4 linked regions of the Homo sapiens genome follow. The protein of the gene in region 3 interacts with the protein of the main gene of each other region in a pairwise test. Each region holds a gene or a part of one and is shown on either strand. Other genes may lie near its edges.

Region 1 (9,306 bases), on a different chromosome or scaffold from region 3:
GCTCCTCGGCGCCCTCTACTGGCAAAGCCCAGCTTGCTGCCTGGACAGGGAGAAAATTTAAAGGGCCCAGATCCATTTTCACCAGGCAGGCAAGAAGGGTGATTGGACACAGAAAAGCAATAATTGATAACCAGAAAAGCCCATCTCTTTGACTACTTAGCTTCCATATGAATCCTCCTGCACACCACTGAAGTCCTGTACAACAACACAACTGCGTATTTCTATCTAAAAAGATGCAGCTATCATCCTTGTAAGTTCTCACTCACTCCCCAAAACAAGGAGACTAATAGGCCCAGGAGTCGTCATGGACTATATTTATTAGGACTTAAATACCGATCACAGTTCCATGGAACATTCTGTCACCTAAAGACTATAAAGTCGACTTCCAAAAACTTGCATATAAAACAAAAATGGGAAGAAGAGAGAAGAAAATGGATAATTACCAAGTGTGCTTACTCTAATTGTTTATTCAGGAGCTCAGAAAATAACTTCGGGGTGGGCATGGACCAAGCAAATCTACTGAGAGTCAGACTACAGCTAAGACTCTATCCCTGACCATCACAAGCCCCACTTTGACTTATGAGCCAGAGTGGCATTTTAGATCCCCAGGAAACAGCATCAGTTCAGAGTTAGTGCCAAGTAACTCCAGAACTGTCTGGGTATGTCCATTTCCCTATTATTTTGGTAAATGGTCACAGGTCCCTTTGGAGGAAGGTTTGGAGGAAGATTTACAATAAGTATTTATGGCAATGATGCAGGCTCCTTCCTCAAGGGGACCCGGCCACCCAGGGATTCTGGGTCTGTGAATTGACTTAGGGTCTGGAAACTGAATGAGAAGCCATGACTATCAATTGCCAGGTTTTGGCTACCGGGCCTAGAACTTTCTATCACATATAAAAATACATGAAATAATACTCTAGTAGGCTGCCCACTTATTTCATTCCCAGAGACACTCTAATCAATTCACCACCACTAGAAATCCCTGTGGGCAAAGGCATTCTGCCTTCCCATACATTCCTGCTACCCTCTCCAATGTGTGCCCACCTTGTCCTTGACAGTGAAGTGCTGCCCCTCGGTATCTGCTACTCCAGGACCCCCTTATCCCCACTGAAATCAGGGAGCCCATCTCAATGGAGGCAGCCTCTATATTCACAGTGGCCTACAAAAGAGAGCAGCCACTGTGCATTTCAAGGACAAAGGGGCTCCCTCACTAATGGATCTCTCTATGTCTCTGTCTTTGGGTCCTTCTTGTGGAACATAGGTGGTGGCAGCAGGGGAGTGCAGATTAGACATGATACATGCAGTCCAACATTGCGGTCTCCCCAAGCCTTTGGATTCCCTCTTCCACATCATGACATCACAACCCTCATTAACTGCAGGTTACTGTCAAGTCCAAGTTTCAGTCAACCAACCAAGCTGTTAGAGCCACCTCCAGCTGCAGAAGCTAACAGCCAAATTCAGAACCTCTAATGAGTGTGCCCGTATCAATGCATCCAGCCCAGGCTAGTGTTACATTCTGCCTTCCTGGATCTAAAACCCTTAGAATCCACTCCCATACATGTCACCAGTCTTGTCGTTCTTTTTCTGTTTCCTCCTAGGTCTGTGTATACCCGCCACCGTGGAACATGCTGAGATCTGACCACAGCTAGGGGCTAGTGACAACAGCAGGTGGCTGTGATGAGTCTTGAGAACAGCATCTGCTCCAGCCGAGATTATCACAGGGTTTCTTAACAGAGAAAAAGCAGTCTCCTCCAGCACTGCGGAGGGAAAGGTATTTCCACTTGATAAGTTGGGGTGGGGGTGGGGGGGGTGGGCTCAGAGTGACTTGCAGTTTAGATTGTCAGTTTCATCAGAGTCCAACAACTGCCCCCATTCCATGTTTCAGGACCCCATTCTTTCACGATTCATGCCCTAATTTGTCCAGATGTGATTCCAACTGTTGTCATAATTCAGCAACCAGCACAATTAAATTTTTTGTTTTATTTTCAGCAGTCTCAGCCTTGTGGCTGCAAGAAATAAGAACTTCCTTAAGGGCTGCCATGGAAGCTGTCTGATTCTCAGACTGTGGCTCGAAGGAAGAGTTAATGGACCTGGGCTTGTCATTTTCTATGTCATTATCTACACATTTTTCAAATTCTTATTATATTATTATTTTTTAGAGCTAGGGTCTTGCTCTGTCACCTGGCTACAGTGCAGCGGTGCAATCATAGCTTACTGCAGCCTCAAACCCCTGGGCTCAAGCAATCCGCCTGCCTCAGCCTCCCAAAGTGTTGGGATTAAAGGCCTGAGCCACCATGCCTGTGCCCGGCCTGCCTATGTATGTTTTAAATAGAGCATAGTATCTGGTTCCTTGAAGACAGGAGCCCTCAAAAGGATCCATCCCACCCCACAGTTCTCACAGTCCTCATTATGGCCACACAGTCAAGTGCAGCATCACTCTGGCTCCCAACAGACGTGCCTCAGGTGGCATTTTGTCTTAACCGCAAATGATAGACTCATATAATGTCACCACATGCCTTGGGTAACTAGCACCCCATTTCCCATTGGCAAGGAACTTGACACTACACCCAAGCCCAAAATCACCAGAAAACCACTCCCAAAATGGTACCTCTGTGGTTCCATCTCCTGATACCTATTCCTGACACCAATTCTGTATCAGTTTGGGTCCAGTCAAGGAAAGGACACCATACAGTGATTTTTACAGGGAAAGTTTCATATGAAGAATTATTAACTTATAATAGAGAACTGAATTAACAAGAAATTGACTGATAAGGAGTAAAGAGAACGATAATTAATACAGAAACAGCAGACGCAAGGAGCAACCACAACCCACAGAGCTGAGATGGAGTCTCTGAAGACCAGACCCCATCCAGAGCTGTGATAAACAACCCCCCGCTAAGAATCCCCCAAACCAGAGCTGGACAAAGCTCTCAAGGAAGAACCCCTCAAGGCCAAGGTAGAGTCCCCAAGAAAGAGCCCCTGGGGGCTTTCATAGGTTCCCCAAAGATAAGTCCCCCACTAGAGGTTTAAAAAAAAGTTCCCAAGAAGAGGCCCCCAGGGCTGAGGCCCCCTGGGAAGAGCCCCTATTCAAGGGATAAGATAGAGCCCCAAAGAAGAGCTCCCAGAGCTACCAAGGAAGGGGCCCCCTACCCAGGGCTGTGATTGATCCCCCAAGGAAGAGTCCCCTCCGAAGGCTGAAATAAAGTCCACAAAGAAAAAGCCCCTGAGGGCTGCGGTAGAGTCCCGAAGAGACACCCTCCTGCCACCTGTGACAGAGTAAACGTCCTCAAAAAAAGAGCCCTCCCAGGGCTGACGTGGAGCCCCCAAGGAACAGCCCCCCACCCCAGGACTGAAATAGAGCCCCAAAAAGAGACCCCCATATCAGGCTGAGATAGAGACCTCCAGAAAGAGCCCCTCACCCCAGGGAAGGGACCCTCCACCAGGCTGAGATAACCCCCTCCAGGCGGTGCCCCCACAAGGGGCTAAGCTTGGGCCCCCAAGGAAGGGCCCCCAGTCCCACACATGTGGCTGAGGTACAGCCGCTATGGAAGAGTCTCCTCCAAAAGCTGAAATCAAGTCCCTAAGGAAAAGCCCTTGGTCTGAGGTAGAGCCTGTCACTCCCCAACCCCACAAAGAAGTGCCCCACACACAAACCCTTGGGGGCTGACAGCCAGGCCTTGCTTAAGAGGGCATGGCTGTGCCACAGGAAGGACAAAAAAAAAAAAAAAAACAGTCAGGGGCCACAACCAGCCAAAGTTAGAAATTCAACTTTTAGAACGTACCAGAAATCTGCCCTGTAAGATGCCACAAAAGCTGCTCTCAGAAACAGTGTCTCACAAGAGGCACCCACTGCAAAACAACTTGAAAGGGGTGCTGTGTGAGCTGCCGAACTCAGCTGCACACTGCAAACGCCTGCACGAGAGCGGCTGCACGTGGTGCCGCAGCCTACTCTGTGAGCACGTGGCAAGCAGGAAGCGGAACCTCCCCGCTGCTGGGGCTCCCCAGCGCCCTCTACTGGCAAAGCCCAGCATGCCTGCTGGCCAGGGAGAAAATTTAAAGGGCCCAGATCCATTTTTACCAAGCAGGCAAGAAGGGTGAATGTGGAGCGGAGAGGCAATAATTTGACAACCAGCAACAATGAAATATCAGCAGTGAAAAAGAAAATAACTACTGATACATAAAACAAATGCATTAATCATATACGTATTATGCTGAGTAAAAGAAACCAGACGCAAAGCAGCACAATCTGTAAGTTTCCATTTACATTATGCACAAAATTCTCTGAAAAGAAATTTAGAGGAAAGAGACTTTAGTACAGAAAACAGTTTGCAAACTTGGAGATGCACCCTCCACTGGAAAATGAAGGGGAGTTCCCAAGAATGAGGGAAGCATCAAGTTTTGCGCAAAAGTTCCTGCCCAGGTTCCCAATCAGATCAAGATGTGCAAATGAAGGATTGAAACTTGCTTAGTTCTGATTGGTCAATATAGCTGAGCTCTCATTGGTTGATACAGCCAAACCCTGATTGGTTTATACACTTGAGCCCTGATTGGTTGGTTCAGGTGAGCTGAGAAAGTACCAAAGATAAAAAGGTGCAGGTTTTCTGGGGAAGTCAGGGTAGTTGTGTAACCATAGTCAGCAAGTGGCTGCTTCATTCTATTTTAAATTTAGGCCCACTTACCCATTCTTATTTGGGGGGGGGGTAGTATTTATTTATTTTGTAGAGAACAGGGTCTTGGTATGTTGCCCAGTCTGGTCGTAAACTCAGGGGCTCAAGTGATCCGCCCACCCTGGCCTACCAAAGTGATGGGATTACAAGCAAGAACAGCGGAGCCTAGCCCACTTAGCCACTCAGGATCCATCTTGAAGGTCTGGCCCTTTCAGGTTCACATTTGTTCACAGAAGTTCAAGAACAGGCAAAGCAACCTACAGTGACAGAAATTAAAAAAAAAAAAACAGGTGGAGATGGGTGTATTTAGCTGGAAGAGGGCACAATGGAATTTTCTAGGGCAATGGAAATACTCTCTATTGCAATTGGGGTGCTGTATACATTTGTAAAAATTCATCATACTGAACACTAAGATCTGTGTGTTGCATTGTAGATAAATTATACCTCAATTTTTAAAAATTAGCCCCCAAACTTGGTTTCAAATCCAGTCACTGTGTACTACCTGTACACAGTGGGTGATATGGTTTGGCTTTGTGTCCTCACCCAAATCTCACCTTGTATTTTAATAATCCCCACGTGTCAAGGGTGGGGCCAGGTGGAGATCATTGAATCATGGGGGCTGTTTGCCCCATACTGTTCTCATGATAGTGAATAAGTCTTACGAGATCTGATGGTTTTATAAACGGGAGTTCCCCTGCACAAGCTTTTTGCCTGCCGCCACGTAAGACGTGACTTTGCCCCTCCTTTGCCTTCCACCTTGATTGTGAGGCCTCCCCAGCCAAGTGGAACTGTGAATCCATTAAACCTCTTTCCTTTATAAATTACCCAGATTTGAGTATGTCTTTATTAGCAGCATGAGAACAGACTAATACAGTGGGTAAACAAATATTGTTGAATAAATAAGTGCACACATGAATCACACATTCTTTTTGCTCCCTCACAGCAAATTTCTGATGGTTCCCCCAAATTACTAAGCTATTGGCCTGCTTTTCTGGGCTCCCATAGTCCTCTCCTCTTAGTCCGGTTGCAGCTTTTATTACACTAATGTTAGCTTCAGAGAGGCAAAAATCTCTGCTTCTACCAGAGAACCCAGCATGTCTTGAGTGCTCTGTGCCTGACACTCTTTTCAAACTCTCATAGGACAATAATCTATGCGGTAGTTACTCCTATCATCCCCATTTTACAGATGAAGAAACTGAAGTATAGTTTGTCCTAGGGCCCACACTCTTTATCACTTTGTCTTGGAAGTCAGACCATCCTAGGTGCAAATCTCAGCTCTTCCACTTACTAACCATGAGTCTTGGGCAGGACAACTGACTGATGCAGGGCAGGCAGGCCCCAAAACAGAGCTTAGCCCATGAGGGTTCTTGGCTTCCTCCAGGCAAAAATTCAAGGGCGAGAAGAAAGTGTAGAAGAAAGCAGAGCTTTATTGAAGGGCCAGTGATAAAGCTCCAGTCTTTGACTGCTCCTGCAGAGCAGGGCTACCCCATAGGCAGAACAGCAGCTCAGGGCAGCCTCACAGTCGTATTTATACCCATGTTTAATTACATGGAGATTAAGCAGTGGTTTATACAGCAATTGCTAGGGAAAGGGTGGTAACTTTTGGGTTGTCAGGTCATTGCCATGGAAAGGGGTGGTAACTCCTGCATGTTGCCATGGCAATGGTAAACTGACATGGCCTACTGGTGGATGTGTCTTATAGAAAGCTGCTTTGCCCCCTCTATTTTAGCTAGTCCGCCATTTGGTCCGGTGTCCAAGCCCCACATCAGGAGTCAAGTCCTGCCTCCCACCTCATGATCACTCTGAATCTTGCCCTACTCATCTTTGAAATGGGGATAATAATATTTTCCTCTTGGGTTGTCTTGAGGTACAAATGAGCCTGTCCACATAGAAATTTTAGCCACAATGTCCACCCTAGAACAACCACTTACTCTCAGTAAATGACAAATTTCATCCGTTCTAAGACACACATTTTCACATTTTCACATCCTTGAAGTCAAAATGTGTTTTACAATCGATGGCATCTCATAATCTCCTTGGACAGTGACAGTTGTGACAGTCGTCATTGTCTCTGCAAGAGCAAACCTGGTTCCAACTGTTCCCATTGTTGACACTTCCATGCCTCAGCATCAAATAGCTCTTTCAGTAAGAATAAAATAAAAATATGATGGGCTAAGAAAGCATCATGCCATACTTTCGTTCACAGCCACTTTTCTTTCTTAGTGGTACATAAATTAATGGTGTGTCTTGCAGCTTAGGTTTGATAGAATGCAGTACAATATTATTATCATAAGTCTCTCGTCCACACTGTGGGTGATTGGATTATTGTGACCTATTCTTCCTGCCTCCCTGTTAGAGAATTAGGCATCCTTGCTTTTGCTATGTGATTTTGCAGTGCCTCACATCAGAGGAGGCAAAGTGTATTTCCCCACCACACTGATGATGTAGGCCTTGCCCGTGTAACCTGTCTCCATATGTGGGCAGCATGACAGTACCCCAGTTCTAAGATGAACCCTTAGGAGACATTGTGTGTTCCTTCCCAGTCATGAAAACAGGACCTGAGTATTTTTCTTTTTCACTGGTGCAAGGAGAATGAGAGACAGGTGAAGCCAACCTGGCCAACCTGCAGCCTGAAGCAGAACCACCCCAGCCGACCCAGCCAGCTGGGAACAAGAAGGATAACTGCTTGTGGTTGCAAGCAACTGAGATGTGGGAGCTGGGGGCTGCTTGTTATGGGGCATTAGCATAGCAGCAATAGCTAATACACTCACTAAACTACAGGTGCTTTAAGGGCAAGGCTCATGGCTCGTTTATCTCTATATCCCTAGCATCTAGACTGGTACCTGGACATGGTGGGTGTAGAGGGCACAGGGAGAGACCATGGAAAAAGGCAGGCTTTGGAGTCACACAGATTGGATTCAAGTCTCAGCACTGCCACTGAAAAGCTAGGTGAACTTGGGCAGTCCTCTGGAGTTCCCAAGCCTCAGTTTCTTCATCTGTAAAATGGGGAACCCCATATCACAGGAGTGATTCAAAGGGAAATGAAGGATGTGCGGGGGCCTCGCTCAGTCCCTTGCAGCAGGCGCTGCAGACGCACACTGGTTCGCTTATCACGGTAGATGTTTGTGATATAATACATGACCAAGCCCCCTGTAACCCATTTCTGTACCCCCAGACCTGCCAGAAAACTCTCTTCCAGATGTTCCTGGCACATGGCAGCAGGTTCTAGCGAGGAGGGAATATTCCTGGGATAGAAGGTCTGGAAGGAGCCAGGAGAGGCAGTTGCCAAGCTGCTCCCAGCAGCCCAGTCCCCCAGGGACCCCTTTACCAGTTCTATTTCCAAGTGCCTGGCAGCCAGGTGCCTGGGTTGGTGCCAGGTTTAAACTTGGCAGACTTTGTGCTCCCCTAGAATTTTCCACCCCAGTCACTCCCTGTGAAAAGGCAAAGGTGGAGAAAATAGCAGAGGAGAGGGCTGCCCATCTGGCCCAGGGAGGGGGCAGGAGTGACCCAGCTGTCCTGACGGGAGTTCTGCCAGCCAGGGGGGCCCACATGCACAGCACATTCTGGTCCACCCACTGTGGGTCCTACCCTGGGAGAGTGTTCAGCAAGGAGGCCTGGATTCCAGGCCTGACTTTGCCACAGCCTGCTGTATGGCCTGGACAGGTCTCTTAACCTCTCTGTGCCTCCATTTCCATGTCTTTACAATGGGTAATATCTAGACAGTCTCCATGGTTTGGGTCCCAGACCCATCTGAGAACCTGGTGGAAGCCATGGACGGCCTCCTGAAAACAATGCATTAATTTCAGCAGTCCAGGGCCTGGGAGCCAACGACCCCAAAGGAACCATCTACTGGGCCCAGAGAGGCCTGTGCTTCCTGGACTGTTAGGGCTACAGGCCCAGGGGCTTATCTCCCACCTGGACCCTCTCTGATATCTCTCTTCCAAGGAAGCCCACATGGTCACGGAGAGAAAGCCCAGTGGACCTTCCTCCCAAGCTGCTCTCCACGTGGCCTCGGGGACACCAGGTTCCTGGCCTCCTCCATCCCTGATCATTAATTATCCCGTGGTTGCCATGGTTTTTCTGAGTCTTCCACACAGACCAGGGCCAGAAACAAGCAGCAAATCAGATCATCAGCCAGTCTTGGGCTGGAAGGGTCTCCAGAGGTGACCTATACACACACACACACACACACGCACACACACACACACTCACTCCAGTCCTGTGCCTCAGTCTTCCACCCCCAGTACCCTGGGGCTGCTCCCCACCCCAGGGGCCCACTGACTGGCACCATCACTTCCTCTTCTGCTCCCCACCCTCTGACACTGTTGTTCCATTTCTGGCAAAGCCTGTGGTGCCCACCACAATCAATAAGGATTAGGGGGCACAAATGGTTAAAACCGGGCAGCTAGGAACTGCAGCATCATCAGCCCTGTCACACCCTGGCTACATGACCCTGGGGTTCATCGACGATATTTTCTATGCTGCCATTGTTTTCTTACATTTCACACAGCCTTCAACATACATCGTGTACTATACAAAGTGCTTACGTGAATTTAATCCTCACAACAAACCTACAAGATAGTTATCCCCACATGTTATTTATCCATTACTGTGTAGTCAATTACTCCAAAACTTAGCA
Region 2 (3,202 bases), on a different chromosome or scaffold from region 3:
CCGCACCCGGCCTGCCAGTGTCTTTTTAATACACATGTGTGTTGGTATTTTTAAATTGTTACAGTATCTAGCATATTGCTTACTCTGAATATTCAGTACTTTTTGAATAAGCAAATATTGCTTCCTTGCTTGGAATCATCAGAGTTTAAAGTAGCTTCGTGGATGGACCATGATCCTAAGATGAGTTTTAATTTTGTGTTTACAGTCATCTCTTGTACAACGTGGAGAAGAAAAGATATACTTACTACTTTGCTTCAGGTACACATAAGAAAACCTCTTTTTTAAAAAAATTTTTATTTTTTTACATAATAGAGACAGGGGCTCGCTGTAGCTTCCAGGCTGGCCTCAAACTCCTGGGCTCAAGCAATCCTCCTGTCTTGGCCTCCCAAAGTGTTGGGATTTCAGGTATGAGACACCACACCTGCCCATTTTTGTTTGGTTTTTTAATGGGCAGGTTCTTGCTCTCCCAGGCTGGAGTGCAGTGGTGTAATCACAGCTCACTGCAGTCTCGAACTCCTGGACTCAAGCAGTCCTCCCACCTCAGCCTCCTAAAGCACTGGGATTACAGGCTTGAGGCACTGCACCTGGCCCTGACCATTTTTTAAAAAGGTTAGGCTTAGTGCAAAGTTTAAAATTATATGATTCTTAAAATACTGAATTAGTTTCTAAACTAAACTAGAGGTATAGGTGGACCTGCTTGAGGTATCTTTGTTTTTATGGAACATTTTTATTACATGCCTTTATAATTTTTCATTGTTCACACCCTGTACTGAAACCTTTTTCTCAAATACCAACTCTTGGCTATGTTAAATTTGTAGACTTTAAAAGATGTTATCTAAATTAATGGTTTAAATATACAAATTGAAAATATTTTCTTTTTAGTGGCAATTTTAAAAGCAGGCCTTAATATGGGACCTGCTTTTAAAGTAAAATATGTGGTACTATGAATTACTAAATTGCTATATACCATGTAATAGTGAGTATAGCTAATATTTAGTATGCCTTTTAAAAATTTTGGACTGCTTTTCGGTTTTAACAAATTCTCCACATGTGAACTACTCAAGAAATTTTCCCTTTTTAATTGCCTCTATAGCACTCATAAGAGCTAGGGCATTAGGATAAACTAGAATATTTTATGTTTATGAATACTTGTATAAACTTAAAAGTGTTTTGATTTCCCACAATTTCCCAAAGGAATGTTTATTTATTAAGAGTTGTGTTGATAATTTAACTGTTACAATTTCAGCAGTTGAATTCAGTGAACACTGGTTGAGGAGTGCCTATTTCTAAGCACTGGGTGTAAGAAGAAAAGACACTTGCAAAGGAAGAGCTAAGATTAACATAATTTCTTTGGTTTTTCTATTGCTTGTTATTATTATGTAAAAACTGGGTGGCAGTTCACAAGGAAGATTGTTGTAACAGAAGAGTGACAACCAATAGTTTTTTGATCATTAAATCAAATTTTGTAAACAGTGGCAGGAGCGTGGACTTAAAACAAGGCTTGCTTATTTGGTTTTGTCAAAGTTTTACGAAAATATATGATATATATTTATACTAAAACTATATAATCCTTAGATTTAGGAAAGCAATCAGTTAATGTCTTTAGCACACTAAAGCAGTATTAAACACAGGTACAAGTTGGAAATTGTAGAAAACTGAAAGAAAACAAGACAAAATGTCTATGGTAGGGAATAAAAGAGTTTAAGATATTATGTAAAATTATGTGTATTTTCTTCTCTTTTACATAAATTGTTTGTGAAAAGTGTGCTCAACTTTTTTACAAGAGTGATATTAACTTGGATTTATTTTTCAATATAATTTGGAGACCCTTTGTTATCCAAATAAAATTGATGAGTTTCTGTGCCTGTAAAAAAAAAAAAAAAAAAAAGAAAAGAAAAGACACTGTTGCATGCCCCAGAAAGCTTGTGGTGGGTGGTAAGTTCTCACGAGATTTATTTATCTGAGCAACATTGGGACTGAGGGAACATCTGAAAGCTACCATCTTGAAAATTTTTGAGGAAGTGTTTCTGAAATATTTAAAAATACTTAAGTCAGTCATTTTGAACAAAAGAAATTGATACAATAAGTTTTTTTTTTTAAGGATGATTGTCTAATTTTGTAATATGTTGTTTTTTAAAAACCTGTCTGATGGTGTTTTATACATTTCTAACTTTTTACCTGAGTTATCTCTTTAGTCTTTTGGAAAATACCCTACACAATACTAACCTTTAAAACTATCAAATTTTTGTTATAAGATAAATGTTATCTTTGTACTAGATAGCAACCCTTTATAAGGTTGTAAGGTATAATAAACTGCTTATTTTTTTACATACTTCATATCAAGCATTTTGCAGTCCAATTATATAGTTGAGGATGGTGTATTTTGATATGTATGAAGTTAATATTTTCAAGTAAGCAATCAGTCTACTACCATCAGATTATAAGCTTTTTTGTAATAATAGGTACATAAAATGTGTATGAAAAATCTACAATAAACATGTTTATCTGATAGCAATTGTCTTGCTTTTTTAATGACCTGAAGATATATGTACGAAGATGAAGCACAATCATCCAAATCCATTGTGATATACTATACTTTTTCTTACGCATCAGTATCATAGATGTTGACTTGCTTTTCCACTATGTGTCAAATATTTTAAAAGAACAATTAAGTTCTTTTGTTTAAAAATGAATGTTTCACTAGTCTCAGAAGCTAAAAAATTGCAGTGCAAATTGTACATGGCAGGAGGTAAATACATATAGTATTGAGTTTCCTTTTTTAAAAAAAGTTTACACATTTAATACAGAGTAATTCCATATAATAACATAAATGCAATGGAACAGGTTTTTGGATCCTGGCTAAAGTATAAGTGCCTCATATGAGAAAAGTCACAAATGTCCATGTTTCTTTGTTTAAACTGGTTTTTAATTTTTATTCTTATTTTTGGAGACAGGTTCTCACTGTCACCCCGGCTGGAGTACAGTCAGTGTTGTGATCATGGCTCACTGAAGCCTCATCTTCTAGGCTCAAGCAATCCTGCCTCAGCCTCCTGAGTACCTGGGACTATAGGCATGTGCCCGGCTAATTTTTAAACTCTTTATAGAGATGGGGTCTCAAACTCCTGAGCTCAAGCGATCCTCCTGCCTTGGCCTCCCAAAAGACTAGGATTAGGGCATAAGCCACTGTGCCCAGCCTTAGACT
Region 3 (8,770 bases):
CTGCAGTCTTGGGCTCCTCAGTAGCTGGGACTACAGGCATGTGCCACTATACCCAGATAATTTTTGTTATTTTATTTTATAGAGATGAAGTCTTGCTATGCTGTCCAGGTTGGTCTTGAACTCCTGGCCTCAAGCAATCCTCCTGCCTTGGCCTCTCAAAGTGCTGGGATTACAGATGTGAGCCAGTGCGCTAGCCTCAACATTGTTTAATGGCAATTACCAAATATATTTCTTACACATTTTTTTCTCTTAATATAGAAAGCTTATAAGATTTTAATGTATGTGTGTATATACATGTGAAGGAGATTTTATTACCTGCTTAACAAATAAACACAAGGAGAAAAAAGCTGGTTTCAGACATTTTCAAACAAAGACAATTAGAACAGTTTTATGTTCAGCTATGGATAAGATCTCACAGTAGGCCGGGCGGGGTGGCTCACGCCTGTAATGCCAGCACTTTGGGAGGCTGAGGCGGGCGGATCACGAGGTCAGGAGATCGAGACCATCCTGGCTAACATGGTGAAACCCCGTCTCTACTAAAAATACAAAAAAATTAGCCAGGCGTGGTGGCGGGTGCCTGTAGTCCCAGCTACTAGGGCAGCTGAGGCAGGAGAATGGCGTGAACCCGGGAGGCGGAGCTTGCAGTGAGCCGAGATCGCGCCACTGCACTCCAGCCTGGGTGACACAGCGAGACTCGGTCTCAAAAAAAAAAAAAAGATCTCACAGTATAGTACAGACTAAAATCTTTTTGTCTGCAAAGTACTCAGATTTTTCCTTTATAGTTTGCTTTTATGTTAAAAAAAAAAAAAAAGTAGATAACATTAAAAATGATCATCTTTACAGGGGAGATAAAAATTTGTCCTATCAAGTGAACAGGCCTAATACTAAGCCTTTTGAAGCCTAAACTTTGTAGGCAATAAGAAATATATATTTGAGCATGCCTGGCATTTATATATCATGAAATATACACTGAATTAACATAAACACTGAGGAAAAAATTATATATTTAGAATATTTAAAGGTTACAAGAGTATTATTAAAAAATCACTTTTGTGATAGACATGATCTATGTGTTTCTCTAAGATCAAAATATAAATTCATACTTCATAATCTGGTCCTCCAAAGTGGGATTTTTTCTTAAGTTCTGTCATTGCATTTTTATATGCTTCCTCTGTTCTTCTTTTCTTCTCAGTTTCCTATTAAAAAGAAGTGAAAAATCTGTAATTTGAGGCAGGCATTTTAATTACAATGAAGTCTTTTAGGTGGAATTCCTCTACATTTCACTGAAATTTTACAATTTGACACAAAAAAATTCCACTCCTGTGAAAAATAAGAGTATTATTCTGCCCAAGAAAACACTTTTCTCTAGGCTATAAATTACTTACAACCTACTATTTATGTATGTATGTATGTATGTATTTTTTGAGACGGAGTCTTGCTCTGTCACCCAGGCTGGAGTGCAATGGCATGGTCTCGGCTCACTGCAACCTCCGCCTCCTGGGTTCAAGCAATTCTCCTGCCTCAGCCTCCCAAGTAGCTGGGATTACAGGCTTGTGCCATCACACCCAGCTAATTTTGGTATTTTTAGTAGAGATGGGGTTTCACTATGTTTGTCAGGCTTTTCTCGAACTCCTCACCTCGTGATCCACCCTCCTCAGCCTCCCAAAGTGCTGGGATTACAGGTGTGAGCCACTGCACCCGGCCACAACCTACGATTTAAATCACCACTAAAATCACCTTAAAAGTAGGTTATGTGTTTAAATGGTTAAGTAACTGCATGTATACTTAAAAAGAAAAGAAAAGAAAAAAACCCAGGTAAATTAGCACCTGAAAAATACCTACTATACATTCTTATACTTCCCCTTCCCACCAACCCCAGTTAAGAGATACATTTATTTTGGTATGAAGAAAAACAGCAAGTAATACCAGAAAAGAACTCAGTAGGTGGGATCAATGAATGCTAAAAAGATATTCTAAGAAAGAAAACCTTCTTATACTTTCTCACTGCTGCTTAAGACTGTATTTTAGCGTTGAAAAAGACTTTAGTTATGTATTTTAACACTCTCCTTTTAATGATAGGGCCTATAGCTCTAAAAGGTTAAAAGACCCAGGGTCAACACTTAAAATAACAAAGGTTGGTCCCATATAAAACTTATTTCCACAACAATGGGGTTCACTGGGTCAAAACTGATACTGGAGTCCAGTATGTTTGTAAATAATCTAATGCTTTTATTTCCTCATTTCAAATAGTCATACATGGCTTTTTTCTTTTCTTTCTTTTTTTTACCTTGTCCAAATTCCATTTTCTAAAAGACTGATTTGCTTGGTCCCCCTATTGGGTAATGTAAGCACCACACTTTTGAAAGCGAAAGGGAATGTTAGTAATAATCTTGCTGAATTAAGAACTGCCTTGGTCAAACCAGGATTCATGGTCACTCTGGCTACAGGAAATGTAAACAGCTCTTCCTATTTCCCCTTATTCCCAAAAAAACACTACTCTGAAGAGCGTGATCATCAAAAATCATAAGAGAACAGATTATGCTTGTGATCTAAAGAAGGCTAGTGAAAGCCACATGTATTTACTGTCACATGTTAGTTCACCATGGGGATACAGTCTGAGAAATGTGTCACTGACGACTTAATTCTTGTATAAACATCATAGAGTGTACTTATATAAACCTAGATGGTATAGCCTACTACACATCTAGGCTATAAACATTTACAACATATGACTGCACTGAATACTGAAGGCAATTTTAACATGATGGTTAAGTATTTGTGAATCTAAACATAGAAAAGGGACAGGAAAAATATGATATAAAAGATAAAAAACAGTATACTTGCACAGGGCACTTATGAATGGAGCTTGCAGGATTTGAAGTTCCTCAGGGTGAGTGAGTGAGTGAGTAGTCAATGAATGTGAAGGCGTAGGACATTACTGCACACCACTGTAAACTTTTAACACTGCATACTTAGGCTACACTACATTTATTTAAAAATGTTCTTCCTTCAATAACAACCTTAGCTTACTGTAACTTTTACTTTATAAACTTTTTAATTTTTTAAACTTTTTGAGTCTTTTGTAATAAGATATCTTAAAACATAAACATTGTACAGCAGCACAAAAATATTTTCTTTATACTGTATTCTACAAACATTTTTCTATTTTTTAAAAAATTTATTTTTTTTAACTTTTTAAACTTTTTTGTTATAAACTAAGAGACAACACACACATTAGCCTAGGCCTACACAGGGTCAGGATCATCAAGATGTCACTAGGCAAAAGGAATTATTCAGCTCCATTATCATGTTATGGGACCACAGTTGTATATGTGGTCCATCACTGACGGAAATGTCGTTATGCAGTGTATCACTGAACTTAATGGCTAAAGTCTAAACTGAACTCACACAAAGCAAACTACTTCTAAATACCACATCAGCGTTAAAGACAGTGGAAATCAATGAATCAATGGGTTCATTAGACCCAAAGATTTCATTAATTGATTTTTGTGTACTAAAGAGAAAATGGGACTACAGATCCACCAGAATGACTAAGCCAGGTGCAGTGGCATGTGCCTGTAGTCCTGGTCATTCAGGAGGCTGAGGCAGGAGGATCACCCGAGCCCTGGAGTTCAAGGCTGTAGTATACTAATGGCTGTGTCTGTGAATAGTCATTGCACTTCAGCCTGGACAACACAGTGAGACCCTGTCTCTCAAAAAAAGAAAGACTGTCCCCAAAATCAAACAACACCAACACCTATACACACACACACACACAGACGCACACACACACAATACCAAGTACAGTCAAGAGTGAACAACATCAACAACACCCACACACCCACACATCCCTAACAATACCAAAATGCTGTCAAGAATTAAAAATAATTGGAATCCTCACCCATTGCTGGTAGAAATAATCACTTTGGAAAATCATCAGTATCCACTAAAGTTAAGCATATACCCCTATGAATCAAGAAGTCTACTCCAAGGTATGAGAAATATACCTAAAGATATGCCCCAAGAACTCTCATAGCAGTTTCATTCATGATAGCCAAAAAATGAAAAAAATCTAAATGTCCACCAACAGGAAAATAGATAAGCAAATTGAAGTCATACAATAAAAAGTTATACAATAAAATAGTGTATAGCAATAAAAAAGAATAAACTACTATTAAATATAACAACATGAATGAATCTCACAGTCAAATGTTGAAGGAAAGAGAAGGCCTGACTCAAAAGTATACTGTATGATTCCATTTGTATGTTGTTCCAGAACAGGCAAAACTAATCTATAATGACATAGGTTAAAACCATATGATCACCTCTTGGGGTGGTGGTATGATATGGAATAGGAAGGAGCATGAAGGAACCTTCTAGGGTGCTAGAAAAGTTATATATCTTGATCTGTCTATGGTTAAGGGGTGTATACAAACGTTAAAAAAAATCAGGTAGTATACTTAAGATTGGTACACTTCATTGTATGTATGTTATGTATTAATTTTAAATGAATAAAACAAAAATGCACAGCACAGCAATAATATTAAAGACTTACAGGAAAGTGAAAATGTATGTAAAAGTACACACCTGTGAATCTAATAATGTAAGAAAATGTATCTTCAATGAACAGGTTATCTCTTATTAACACTGTTAACCATAATTGCCTAATTTTAGAATTTTTGGTTTTCCTGGACATGACTGGCTAACAATTAAGTACACTTCTTCTACAGTGGAAAGGATCATTATTATTATAGGTAACCAATAAAAATCATCACTACAAAATAGTATTTTCAATTAGCTGAAAGAATCCTGGAACTGACATTATAAATCTACATAAAAGTATAATATAGACAATTCTATTATTAAATAGCTGTTATTATCACCTATTTAATTGCTCTCATTAGATTTTAAGCCCCTTGAGAGACTATTTCCTGCTCATCACTGTTTTCCCATTCCTAGCTTAGAGTCAAGCACACAGCAGGCACACACCTGAATGAAACAATTTCAGTGAAACCATATTGTTATCATTGTACTTTCTTTCTCAATTCTAAGAATTACCTGAAAGACGTATTTGTTGATAAACAACTTTCTCTATTTAAGAACTTTCTAGTCTTTAGTGTGTATATATACACACACACACACACACACACTCTACATACAAAAGATTAGAAAGTTCTTGAATAGAGTTGCTTACCAATAAATACACACATACCCTGCATATATTATGTATATATATATGAACACACACATACTGTGTGTACACACATGTGCAAATACACACACACTTACATTCCATGTAAAATGTAACTGGGATCCAGTTATTTCAACCTTGAGAAAAAATTACAGTGGAAAAGGTTAATAAAATTTGACATCAGATAGATCTGTAAGAAGACTATAAAACACAGTAGTGTCCAGATTTTAACCAATACTGCCTGCCATCTTTTCTGGCTGTTCTTTGGTGGAGAGTGTTGCATGGAGAAGCAACAAAAGTGGTTTTTTTCCCGCAGATCTTTGGTTTGCTCTGCTCATTGCTACCCAATAAAGAAAGAGAACTGGTAAGATTAACAATGCTGAAAGCAATCAAAAATCTATCTCCCCTTTTCAACATGGCAAATAAACTTGAATGCTAAAATAATCAGGAAGTGGTATATAATGTGCAAAGGTTTAAAAAAAATTATTTTAGGCAATGTGGTTAGAGTATATGACCAAAGAATATGATCCCTTAGTGAAGGAAAAAGAGACTAAAGAGAGAGAAAGTTGCCAAAAAGTTGGAAATAAGCTAGTCTGGACTAGCTGAATGATAATCTTGAACCATTAGTCTAATGTATTTAGGGAGTTGTCCTGTTTTTCAATACATTGTTTTTTTTTTGTGAACAGGGACTCTTCTAATAATTCAATTTGATCCACACTGAGTATAGAGTTGAAATCTTTGAAGATAATAATAGTTTGGCTCCAGAATGATAATAAATTTTCTATACCTTAAAAGGATGTTTTCATTACCTATTTTAAAAGAAGACATATTCCTAATCAAAATGGCTTACTCTCACCTGCACTTGTGCATTCTGAACAGCTCTCTTTTCTTCTAAAACATGGGAACCTTCCTAAACACATAGTGCTATCATTGCTTTCCTTAGTGTCCCGCTCAAATTCAAAGGCCTTCAAACTCTGCAAGCAATATAACTCAGAATGAATATGATTCTGGCTGATGTCTAATCTGGCATCCAGAGCTGATATATAAAAGAATAGAGAAAAATGCCTCTAACTCTATTACTTTTCACCTTTTGACAAGCCTCTGGGCCTCAATTCCTTCTTCTATAAAATGATGGCATTGGACTAGAACTTTAAGGTATGTTTCAACTCTAACATTTTACTATTATTCTAAAGCTGAATTATAAATAGAAGTTTTCCTACTTAACAAATCCACTGAGCCATGCTTCACACTAGAAACTAAAGAGTCATACTATAATATTATCAGTGCTGCAGTTTAAACAAAGGTGGGAAAATGTGAACATAGGGCAAATGCTCAAACAACATAATGTATGTTAAATGGTATCACTGACCATGGAAAAAATACATGAGTATTACTATAATAAGTAAATGTTTAACTTTGTAAATTGGCATATAAGTTAGTTCATATGCCTTAAATGCAGTTTCATACATCATGCACCTAAAGGTGTGTAATGTTAAATGGCTCAACACTTCTATTCCAAAGCATTACTAACATCATCACAAAAACTTTTATATTAAATCTTTCAAGAAAGCATACTGTATAGTAACTAAACAAGTAATTGGTGAATCTTGTTAGGCAAATGAGTTTAGGATGCCCATAAAGCTTCAGAGTAGTAGTATCATCTGCTATTTCTATCAACCCAAGATTCTTCCCTAAGAAGTTAGCTTGTTTTAAATATTCAAACAATACGTAAAACTTAAATGTGATTATTTTTAAAAGGAAAAAAACCTAGTCTTACCTTATCCAGTCTCTTCTGCCAGCTGTCCTCACGTTTAACCATTAGTTCAATACAATGAGAAAGTGTTGCAAGGATTCCAGCAGTAGTTGCTTTAAAAGTTATCGCTTCCCCTTTAAAGTCTATACCATTAATTCCTTTTGGTGTCACATGTGGAAATACTGAAAATGAAAATTATTCACTGAAAATATCTCTAATGAGGAAATAATTCATCACAATTTAAGATTAGAAAATGTTTAGAAAATTAGCAAGTCAGAGCAGGTTTTGGGATTTTAATTTTCCTCCTGTAGGCCAACATTTAAAAATCTCCTATCCAAGCTCTATAAGCAAAGAAGCTTCGTGGCAGCATATGTACTTTCAAGTCCTTTTTTTCTAGATTCTGTTTCCTGAAATTTATTTGCTGTGCTGCACCCAATTAATCAAATGGTAGGAGGAGCAATACTTTAACAATAACATTCTGACAGCTTAGAGTAGGACCTAATTATGGCAAGAACTACCTTATTATTTTGAAAAGCCTAGAATTAAAAAAAATCTGAAGATAAACTAAAGAATCTAATAAAATAATATACAATTTAAAAATAAACATACAAATTTAAATCCAGGACCAATGCACTTAAACTCAATGCCTTTTACGTTTCAATTTTATCATTTTAATTCATGGTTAGCTTTTGAATTAAACAAAAAATCTTAAAACTCAAAGATGCAAACAAGAAATCATAATATTCTATAGTTAAGAAATCATTCTAGTAGAATAATTATAAATGAAATAATGTCAATTTTGACTTTAAAAACGATTAGAGATATGACAGTAAAGGTATAATCCATCAAAGAACAAATTGTGAAACTTAAATCAAAATGTAAAATTTCTGCTCTTGAAAACACTGTTAAGAGGATAAAGAGATAAGCCACAAACTGGGAGAAAATCTTGTGTGGCATATATTTAATAAAGACTTCTATCCAGAATATATGAAGTAACCTCAAAGCTCATTAATAATAAACACTGGCTGGGCGCGGTGGCTCACGCCTGTAATCCCAGCACTTTGGGAGGCCAAGGCGGGCGGATCACCTGAAGCTGGGAGTTCGAGACCAGCCTGACAAACATGGAGAAACCCCGTCTCCACTAAAAATACAAAATTAGCTGGGTGTGGTGGCGCATGCCTGTAATCCCAGCTACTCAGGAGGCTGAAGCAGGACAATCACTTGAAACCGGGAGGTGGAGGTTGCGGTGAGCTGAGATCACCACACTGCACTCCAGCCTGGGTAACAAGAGGGAAACTCTGTCTCAAAATAATAATAATAATAATCACCAAGCCCAACATGAGTAAAAAATGTGAACACACACTTCACCAAAGAGCAGATATAAATGGCAAATAAAAACATGAAAAGGTGCTTAATATCACTAGTTAATATGGAAATGCAAATTAAAACCACAATGACATATCCCTACACACCTATTAGAATGACTGAAATTTGAAGACTGACCATATTAAGTGTTGGTGGGGATATGGAGGAACTGGGACTCTCATATGTGGCTGGTAAAAAACAGTTTGGCAGTTTCTTTAAAAATTAAACACACCCACACCCGCCATATGATTAGAACATTCTACTCCTAGGTATTTACCCAAAATAAATACAATAAATTTCCATGAATAGAATTGTATATGAATGCTCATAGCAGTTTTATTTGTAATAGTCAAAACTGTAACCGACCCAAATGTCCACCAATGAATGACTAGATACACAAACTATGGTATATCTATACAATAAAATACTACTGAGCTATGAGAAGAACTGAACTACTGATA
Region 4 (8,770 bases), on a different chromosome or scaffold from region 3:
CTGGGAACTGGACATTACTTGTGTCATAAAAACTTGGGTGGGGACACTCCTGAGGTGGCTGGACTGGGGCAAAACCACTCCCAGGACACCACAGACTGAGCTGTGGACTCCTCTGTGGTCACCGTTTGAGCTACACATTTATGGCACCACTAAGATGGCTATGGAAACTCCAAGCCATTGCCACTGCTGGACTCACAGAACCTGGCGTGAGGACACTCCTGAGGTCTCACAGGCTGTCGTGTGAACGCTGCTGAATTTGCACTGTAATGGGTGTGGCTACGCCTGTGGTCACACGGCCTTTTGTGTGGACACTTCCGCCATACATTCTTGGGCTGTGCATATTCACAGATTGGGGTGTGGGCATTCCTGTGGTCACACTGACTTCGGTGAGAAGACTCCTGGGTTAAGTCACCATGGTGTGGACACTCCTAGACTGACACAAACTGGGGTCTGGACATTCCTGGAGTCACACAGACTGGGGTGTGGTTATTTTCGTGGTCAGAGACCGGAGTGTAGACATGCCTATGAACACACGCTCCAGAATTTAAACACCATTTCTGACTGGAGATTGGACAATGGTTTTCCCAGACTTGAGTGTGCATACTCCTGGGGTCACACATGGTAACTGGGGTGAGTCACAGTCAGGTGTGGAAACAGCTGGGGTCGCAGACTGGTATGTGGATACTCCTGAGGTCACTGGACTGTGGCGTGGATAGTCCTTGGATCACAGAGTACGTGAATTTCTAAGGACACAGGATTAAGCTGTAGAAAACAGTTCTGTTCGTGTAGCTGGGGAGTTTCTGTCAGCTCCTGTTCATTAAGTTATAGAAATTTAGGACTGCAGTCCAGGTAGACTTTCTGACATTGCTTTTTTTTTTTGAGACAGAGTCTCACTCTGTCGTCCAGGCTGGAGTGCAGTGGCGCGACCTCGGCTCACTGTAACCTTCATCTCCCGGGTTCAGGTGATTCTCCTGCCTCAGTCTCCTGAGTAGCTGGGATTACAGGCATGTGCCACCGCACCCAGCTAATTTTTGTATTTTTGGTAGAGACGGGTTTCACTATGTTGGCCAGACTGGTCTCAAACTCCTGACCTCAAGTGATCCGCTTGCCTCAGCCTCCCAAAGTGCTGGGATTACAGGCGTGAGCCACCACGCCTGGCCCTGACGTTTCTTTAAGACAGGTTTTTAACCTAAAAAATTTGTTCTGAAGTCTGGGTGCGGTGGTTCACGCATGTAATCCCAGCACTTTGGGAGGCCGAGGTGGGTGGATCACCTGAGGTCAGGAGTTCGAGACCAGCCTGGACAAAATGGTGAAACCCCGTCTCTACTAAAAATACGAAAATTAGCCGGGTGTGGTGGCGGGTGCCTGTAATCCCAGTTACTCGGGAGGCTGAGGCAGGAGAATCGCTTGAACCCAGGAGGCAGAGGTTGCAGTGAGCCAAGATCACACCACTGCACTCCAGCCTGGGTGACAGAGCGAAATTCTGTCTCAAAATAAATAAATAAATTTGTTCTGCAGAACCCTTTGGCATCTGGTTAAATCTGTGAACCCCTTCACAGAATATTTTTAAAAGTATATACATACACATACACACACACACAATTACAATGGAAGCCAATTACATTGAATTACAATTATTACTATATATTAAATTGAAACAAAATTGAGATGCAGTAATATATGGGCTTTTTAATTAATACATCAACTTACAGGATCTGCTATCATTCCAAGAGGTGACAAATATGAACAATACTTCAAGATGCCCTTTTTATGTTACATTACAGTTGCTGTAACTGGTTTGTATTGGTGGGAAAATCCCAGGTACTGCTTTTACTACTGTGATTTGTTGCCAGCATTTATAACTTGGGAGTAAGGCTAAATTTCAGTTTCATTGCTGAAAATAAAGATGTAACATTTTCTTCCATCAAGTTCATGGTTACCCCTGGCTTCTATCCAGGTTAAGAATCCCTGCCTTTAGGGAAAATTCTGGACATAATCAGGACACTCCTGAAGAGGTTTAAAGAAGAGGTAAGACCTCACTCAAGAATTCCCACTGCAGTACAGACAGACTTTCATGGTTTCTTTCCTTGTTGTCTTCAGGGTTGTTGCAGATCCCTCCTCAGGGCTTGTTTGTCCAGGCCTCGTTGATGAGATGATATTTTGAAAACAAGTTCATCAACAAGTTCCGGTTTTCCTGACATTGAGCAGTTTCTGAGTTGTATCAGTTTGCCAGCTAACCAAAAGTCAAAGAAAGTTTTTTTGTTTTGTTTTGTTTTTTTAGAGACAGGGTCTTGCTCTGTCACCCAGGCTGGAGTGCAGTGGAGCTCCATCATAGCTCACGACAACCTTAACCTCCCAAGCTCAAGTGATCCTCCCACCTCAGCCTCCCAAGTAGCTGGGATTACAGGCAGGAATGTGCCACCACACCTAGCTAACTCTGCTGCTAACATTTTTGTGACATTTCCTCCTTTTATGGTGAACCATGACATATAGAAAATGCATAAAACCTATATATGTTCAGTTTAATGAATAACTACAAGGTGTTATTTGGTGTAATTGCAGGATGTTCACTGTCATTGTTGTACAGTTCTCCACGGTGAATGTACCACGATTTAATGGGCATATACTATAGATAGTGCTGCTAGCAACACTCTAGGACTCATTTCCTTTTTTTTGAGATGGAGTCTGACTCTGTCACCCAGGCTGGAGTGCAGTGGCACGATCTCAGCTCACTGCAACCTCCACCTCCCAGGTTCAAGTGATTCTCCTGCCTCAGCCTCCTGAGTAGCTGGGATTACAGGTGCCCGCCACCATGCCCGGTTAATTTTTGTATTTTTAGTAGAGATGGGGTTTTGCCATGTTGGTCAGGCTGGTCTTGAACTCCTGACCTCAGGTGATCCACCCACCTCGGCCTCCCAAAGTGCTGGGATTACAGGCGTTGAGCCACGGCACCCGGCCTCTAGGACTCATTTCTTAGGAGTGGAACTGGCACACATGCAGCTTTAGTAGGTAATGCCTAAGTTTCCACAGTGGCTGCACCATTTTACCTTCCCAGTAGCATGTACGAGGCTTTCAATTGCTGCATATCCTTTCAAATACTTAGTGTTGTTGATATTTTGAGTTTTCACTTGTATTTTCCTGATGAGCAGCTTTTCATGTGCTTACTGGCCACTCTCATGTTTTTCCTTATTGATTTACAGGACCCTTTAAATATTAAAAACTGTAAATCTCTTTCACACAATGATTTGCTGTTTCAATTTTTTCTTAAGGTGGCTTCTTGTGGCCAGGTGTGGTGGCTCAGGCCTGTAATCCCAGCACTTTGGGAGGCCTGAGGCAGGCAGATTTTGTGAGGTCAGGAGTTTGAGACCAGCCTGGCCAACATGGTGAAACCCCGTCTCTACTAAAAATACAAAAATTAGCCGGGTGAGGTGGGAGCACACGTCTGTAATCCCAGCTACTCAGGAGGCTGAGGCAGGAGAATCTCTTGAACCCGGGAGGCGGAGGTTGGAGTGAGCTGAGATAGTGCCACTGCACTCCACCCAGCCTGGGCGACAGAGCGAGACTCTGTTCTCAAAACAAAACAAAAAACAAAACAAAAAAGGCCAGGTGTGGTGGCTCACACCTGTAATCCCAACACTTTGGGAGGCCGAGGCAGGTGGATCACCTGAGGTCACGAGTTTGAGACCAGTCTGGTCAACATGGCAAAACCCCATCTCTACTAAAAATACAAAAATTAGCCATGCATAGTGGCGGGCACTGTAATCCCAGCTATTTGGGAGGCTGAGGCAGGAGAATCGCTTGAACTTGGTAGATGGAGGTTGCCGTGAGCTGAGATCATGCCACTGCACTCCAGCCTGGGTAACAGAGTAAGACTCTGTCTCAAGAAAAAAAAAAAGGTGGCTTTTTGTGATGGCTGACTTAGTCTGAATAACCTGCTATGCCATTGTCAGAAAGGGCCATCCTCTAACATCGTGGTTTTAGAACATTTGGCTATGGATAAACTTTCCTCCCATACCACGTGCAGTTCCACCTTTGGGACATGCCTATTTCCTTTACCCAGAATGCTCTTCCCTCAGATAAACACATGGCTTCCCTCCGGCAGTGCCTTCAGGTCTTTGCTCAAACATTACCTCTGAGGAATGTCTGAGGCCTTCTATGACAACCCTTTTAAAAAGTGCAAACTGGCTGGGCGCAGTGGCTCATGCCTGTAATCCTGGTACTTTGGGAGGCCGAGGATGGCAGATCGCTCGAGCCCAGTAGATCGAGACCAGCCTGGGCAACATGGCAAAACTCCATCTCCCCTAAAAATACAAAAATTTGCTAGGCATGGTGGTACATGCCTGTAGTCCCAGCTACTTGAGAGGCTGAGGTGGGAGGATTTTTTGAGCCCGGGAAATCACACCACTGAACTCCAGCCTGGGCGACAGAGTGAGACCTTGTCTCAAAACAAAAACACCAAAAGATGAAAACTGCCATGCCTAGAATTCCTGATTCTCTTCACCCTGCTTTACTTTTTTCTATTTTTTATATCCCATATTACTCTTATATATTATATATATTGCAAGATATGTAAATTGAGAAATGCAAGCTATATAGTATATATGTGTATGTAAACTCTTGCACTTACAGACTGTTTTGATTGTTGCCTCTTTTCCAAACTGGAAGTACTGTGAGAGCCAAGATATTTCTGTTTTGCTCCCTGCTCTATCTCCAAACCTAGAACAACACCTGACATACAGTATGTGCTCAATAAATGTTTACTGAATGCCTCAAATGTAAAATGCTTAAAGCAGTTCCTGGCATACAACAACAGATGTTTAGAAAAGGGTTTGTTGATTAAAATCTTATCAGTTGACATAAAAATTTCAAAGGTGAAATTTTACTGAGGTTTTTCATAAAGGTTGCCCTTACTCAAACTCTTAGATAACAAGGCAAACTTACCGTAATGGGTTAAGGTGAACAACTCATTTCATTGTCTTCCATCTACCCAAGAAAAAGAAAAGTGACTCACATATTTGGCGAAACTTTTCCATTCATTATGCTTGGCTTTACCAATTTTTTATAGCTATTGGGAGGCAGGAAAGGGAATTTTGGCCCCAGAAACCATGAGATTTGGGTCAGAAAAAGGCACACGGGGAAGGGGTCAAGGCAGGCTGAGAGTCACATTTCCAGACCTCAGGGGCCAGCAGGGTGTGGCACTGAGGGGCGGCCAGGGGCTGGGGAAACGTGTCCACTCTGCTGATGGGGCAGTCCTGGGGGCGGATCTCCTTGGCCAGCTGCCCCTTCCTCTTCAACGTGCAGGCCTCCTGGTATGGTGGCGAGATGGGGGGCTGTGTGGGTGGAGTGTACTTGTACTCTGAGCCGCCCTCTAGCTGCAGGGACAGAGGGGTAGGGAGATGGTGAGGACCTGGTAACCTAGGACAGCCTCCCTCCCACCCACCTACTGTTGGTTGGGCACTCACGTCCAGTGGGTAACTGCGGTCCGAATCATAGGAGCTCAGGTCCCCACAGGTCACAAAAGGCACAATGATGCGGGTGGGACCATCCAGCTGGTTGAAATCTGGGTCTTAGGAACAGGGGGAGACAACTGAGGACAAGGTCAGGATGCCTGGGGCCAGTCATGACACAGGCGGCGGTATGGCTGCCAAACCCTCCCCACATATCCACCAGCTACTCTCTTCCCACCCCACCAGAAATCCTTCATTTGGTTCAGATCACCTCCTCGGGGAGGCCCTCCATAATCACCCCTTCTAAAACATCGGTGCCCTGCTATTTTTCACTGCATTTATGTCCACCTGATATTGGATTATATGCTGCCTGGATGACGTCTCCCTCACTCAAATGTCATCCCAGGGGCAGGCTCTGTCTCTTCCTGCTAGAGGCTTAAGGGGCAAAAGTTTCACACCGAGGAGGTTTCCACCTGGGACATGACTGAGATCTTCCTAGGAGAGAATGTCCTTAGGCAGGTGGAGTCTCCACTGGGGCAGGGCTCAGGATCCTCCTGGGATGGAATTTTCACCAGGCCCAAGAGTTACCACTAGAGGACTGCCTGGGCTGAAGCTCCTCCCGGGACAAAATACCCATAAAGGGGTGGGATTTCCATCAGAGAATGGGGCTAAGGATCCCCTTGGGAAAAAAATTCCCATGAGGGGACAGAGCCTCCCCCAGGGGGTGAGACTGTGGGCCCTCATGGGACCTAGATTGCATAAGGTGTGGCAGAGTCCCCCAGGGTGGCCCATGCTCCAGCTCTCACCGTAAGAATGGTCCAGCAGGGGTTTGCTCAGGTCCGGGATGAAGCCCTCGGGAGGGTCATAGCCCTGACAGACAGCGAAGGCCTCTGCCAGGGGAAGGTGGAGTGAGGCATGACTGCCGCTTCCTCCTCGTGCAGTCGGCGTCCCAGAGATCCCCCTCTGCCTGCCTGGCCCCTCCACCCCACTGACCGATGCTAGAGTTCCGGCTGCTCCTGGGCTTGGCACACAGCACGCTGGAGAAGAAGACCTGCAGCTGGCTGTAGAGGAGCGTCACATCCCGGCCTCGGAATATCTGCAGGGTGAGAAGGCAAAGACAGCGGGTGAGGGTGGCCCTCAGCGACCTCCCTCTACTCCACCAAGTTCCTTGAGACTTACCTTGGCCACAAAGCAGCCCCCTGGCTTCAGGACATGTGTAGCAATGTTCAGAGCCTGTGGGCAGGACAGACGGCTGAGGCTGAGGTGGAGACAGCCAGGAGGGGGCCAAAGTGGGTCAGGGGTGGCCAGGGTTACTCACAGCTAGGAGGAGCTGGGCCTGCATATACTCATCAACATCATGGAGACCGGTTACTGTGGCAAGAGGAACAGCGTTAGGGGGGTCCCATCTGGCTCTGTGCATCTTCTTGTACCACACAGATCAGACACTAAATACATTTTCCAGGCTGTCTTACTGCTAAGGTTCCAGATGCAAATTACTGTCTGCCAACTGGATGCATATTCTGAGCTCCTAACCCTTAGGAACTCATTTCAATTCTAAAACAACCTCACACACAAGCATCATTATCATTTCCACCTCCAGCCCAGACTGTTCCTCTGAACTCCAGATTCACAAATCAGATTCTACATCTCCAATACATCCACAACCAAACTCCTGACCTACCTCCCCAAACCTGCTCCTCCCACCATCCTCCCCATCTCATCTGAGCTTTCTAATTGTTCAAATCCAAAACCTTAGTCACCTCTGATGCTCCCCCCGCATCCTCTCCTCACACCCACATCGAAGCCATTAACACATCTACTTTCAAAAGATCTGACTTGATCTTCTCCTCTCCACCACTGCCCTCACCCATTATCACTTGCCTGGACTACTCCACCCCGGAGCCCCTGCTTCTGCCCTTGGCCCTCACACAGCTCATAGTAGCCCAAGCCCAGCACAGTCCTCTTCTCCTCACAACCCTCTCATGGTTTTCTCCAAGCTCTCATCTCGGTGAAAATGCCAACAGCCTCACCATGGCCCACGAGGCCCTATAGGATCTGTCCCCTGTTACCTCTCTGATGTTACCTTTTACCACTCTCCCCCCCTCACTCTGTTCCAACCACAGTGATCTGCTTGTCATTACTCATACATAGCAAGCACCCTCCTGCCTCAGGACCTTTGCACGGGCTGCAATTTTTCCTGGATTGCTCTTCCTCCAGACATATCCATAGCTTACTCCCCCACCTCCTTTAGTCTCTGCTGTTAAGTCAGTGAGGCCTTCCCCATCCACTTGATTTAAAATTCCAACAGGTACTCCTGCTTTCCTCCTGCTCAATGATTTCCCTATGGTACCCATCCCCCACCCCACCTTTTTTTTTTGAGACGGAGTTTCGCTCTTGTTGCTCAGGCTGGAGTGCAATGGTGCGATCTCAGCTCACTGCAACCTCCGCCTCCCGGGTTCAAGCGATTCTTCTGTCTTAGCCTCCCAAGTAGCTGGGATTACAGGCACATGCCACCACACCTGGCTAATTTTTGTATTTTTAGTAGAGATGGGGTTTCATCATATTGGTCAGGCTGGTCTCGAACTCCTGACCTCAGGTGATCTGACCACCTCAGCCTCCCAAAGTGCTGGGATTACAGGCGTGAGCCACTGTGCCCGGCCTCCTCACCCCGTTTTTTTAGAGAGAGGGTCTCACTCTGTTGCCCAGGCTGGAGTGCAGTGGTGCGATCAAAGTGTACTGTAACCTCGACCTCTTGGGCTCAAGTGATCCTCCCACCTCAGCCTCCTGAGTAACTGGGACTATGGGCATGCATCACCATGCCAGCTAATATTTTAAGACAGGGTCTTGCTATGTTGCAAGGCTGGTCTCAAACTCCTGCCTCAAGTGTTCCTCTCACCTCATCCTCCCAAAGCACTGGGATTACAGGTGGAAGCCACCATGCCTGGCCCCATCCCCTTTTAATGGTACAGAGCTGAATCATTTATTTTCTTTCCCATTTGCTCCCACTAGAACATCAGCTCCATGAGGTTAAAGATTAATGGAATTTTATTCATGAATGTTTTCCCAACACAATAGGTGCTCAGTAAATGTGTGTTGAATGGCTGGCTGGCTGAAAATGAATGAACAGTGCAACGGAATTGGACAGTTGCAGAGAGATGAGAGCAGGGAAAGGTAGACAACAGACATGAAACTCAAAGGGTGGGGTGCAAGTGGGAGGAAGAGAGAGGCAGAGAGAGAACAGGCAGCAGAGGTAGGGAGAAGTTGCCAGATGTGGGAGAAAGCTGAGTGCGGAAGGGAGAGGCAGGGAGTAACTGAAGAGGTGA

The links.
Region 1: the proteins of CERT1 (region 3) and ACTL8 interact in binary tests that used the Homo sapiens proteins (3 or more experiments, as listed by UniProt).
Region 2: the proteins of CERT1 (region 3) and PM20D2 interact in binary tests that used the Homo sapiens proteins (3 or more experiments, as listed by UniProt).
Region 4: the proteins of CERT1 (region 3) and FTSJ1 interact in binary tests that used the Homo sapiens proteins (3 or more experiments, as listed by UniProt).

The regions. Positions count from the first base shown.
Region 1 is NC_000001.11:17,749,981-17,759,286, reverse strand, and holds the start of ACTL8 (actin-like protein 8), read right to left. Parts: upstream 3,955-9,306; 5' UTR 3,783-3,954; intron 1-3,782.
Region 2 is NC_000006.12:89,163,055-89,166,256, forward strand, and holds the end of PM20D2 (xaa-Arg dipeptidase), read left to right. Parts: 3' UTR 1-2,511; downstream 2,512-3,202. UniProt on the Homo sapiens protein: Catalyzes the peptide bond hydrolysis in dipeptides having basic amino acids lysine, ornithine or arginine at C-terminus. Postulated to function in a metabolite repair mechanism by eliminating alternate dipeptide by-products formed during carnosine synthesis.
Region 3 is NC_000005.10:75,409,908-75,418,677, forward strand, and holds part of CERT1 (ceramide transfer protein), read right to left. Parts: intron 7,127-8,770; coding exon 6,969-7,126; intron 1,197-6,968; coding exon 1,104-1,196; intron 1-1,103. UniProt on the Homo sapiens protein: Shelters ceramides and diacylglycerol lipids inside its START domain and mediates the intracellular trafficking of ceramides and diacylglycerol lipids in a non-vesicular manner.
Region 4 is NC_000023.11:48,479,199-48,487,968, reverse strand, and holds the end of FTSJ1 (tRNA (cytidine(32)/guanosine(34)-2'-O)-methyltransferase), read right to left. Parts: intron 6,819-8,770; coding exon 6,766-6,818; intron 6,681-6,765; coding exon 6,627-6,680; intron 6,544-6,626; coding exon 6,441-6,543; intron 6,338-6,440; coding exon 6,254-6,337; intron 5,567-6,253; coding exon 5,463-5,566; intron 5,373-5,462; coding exon 5,175-5,372; coding exon of another isoform or gene 5,118-5,174; exon of another isoform or gene 5,015-5,117; intron 4,984-5,014; coding exon 4,951-4,983; 3' UTR 4,942-4,950; intron 4,729-4,941; exon of another isoform or gene 4,628-4,728; intron 2,234-4,627; 3' UTR 1,619-2,233; downstream 1-1,618. UniProt on the Homo sapiens protein: Methylates the 2'-O-ribose of nucleotides at positions 32 and 34 of the tRNA anticodon loop of substrate tRNAs. Requisite for faithful cytoplasmic translation.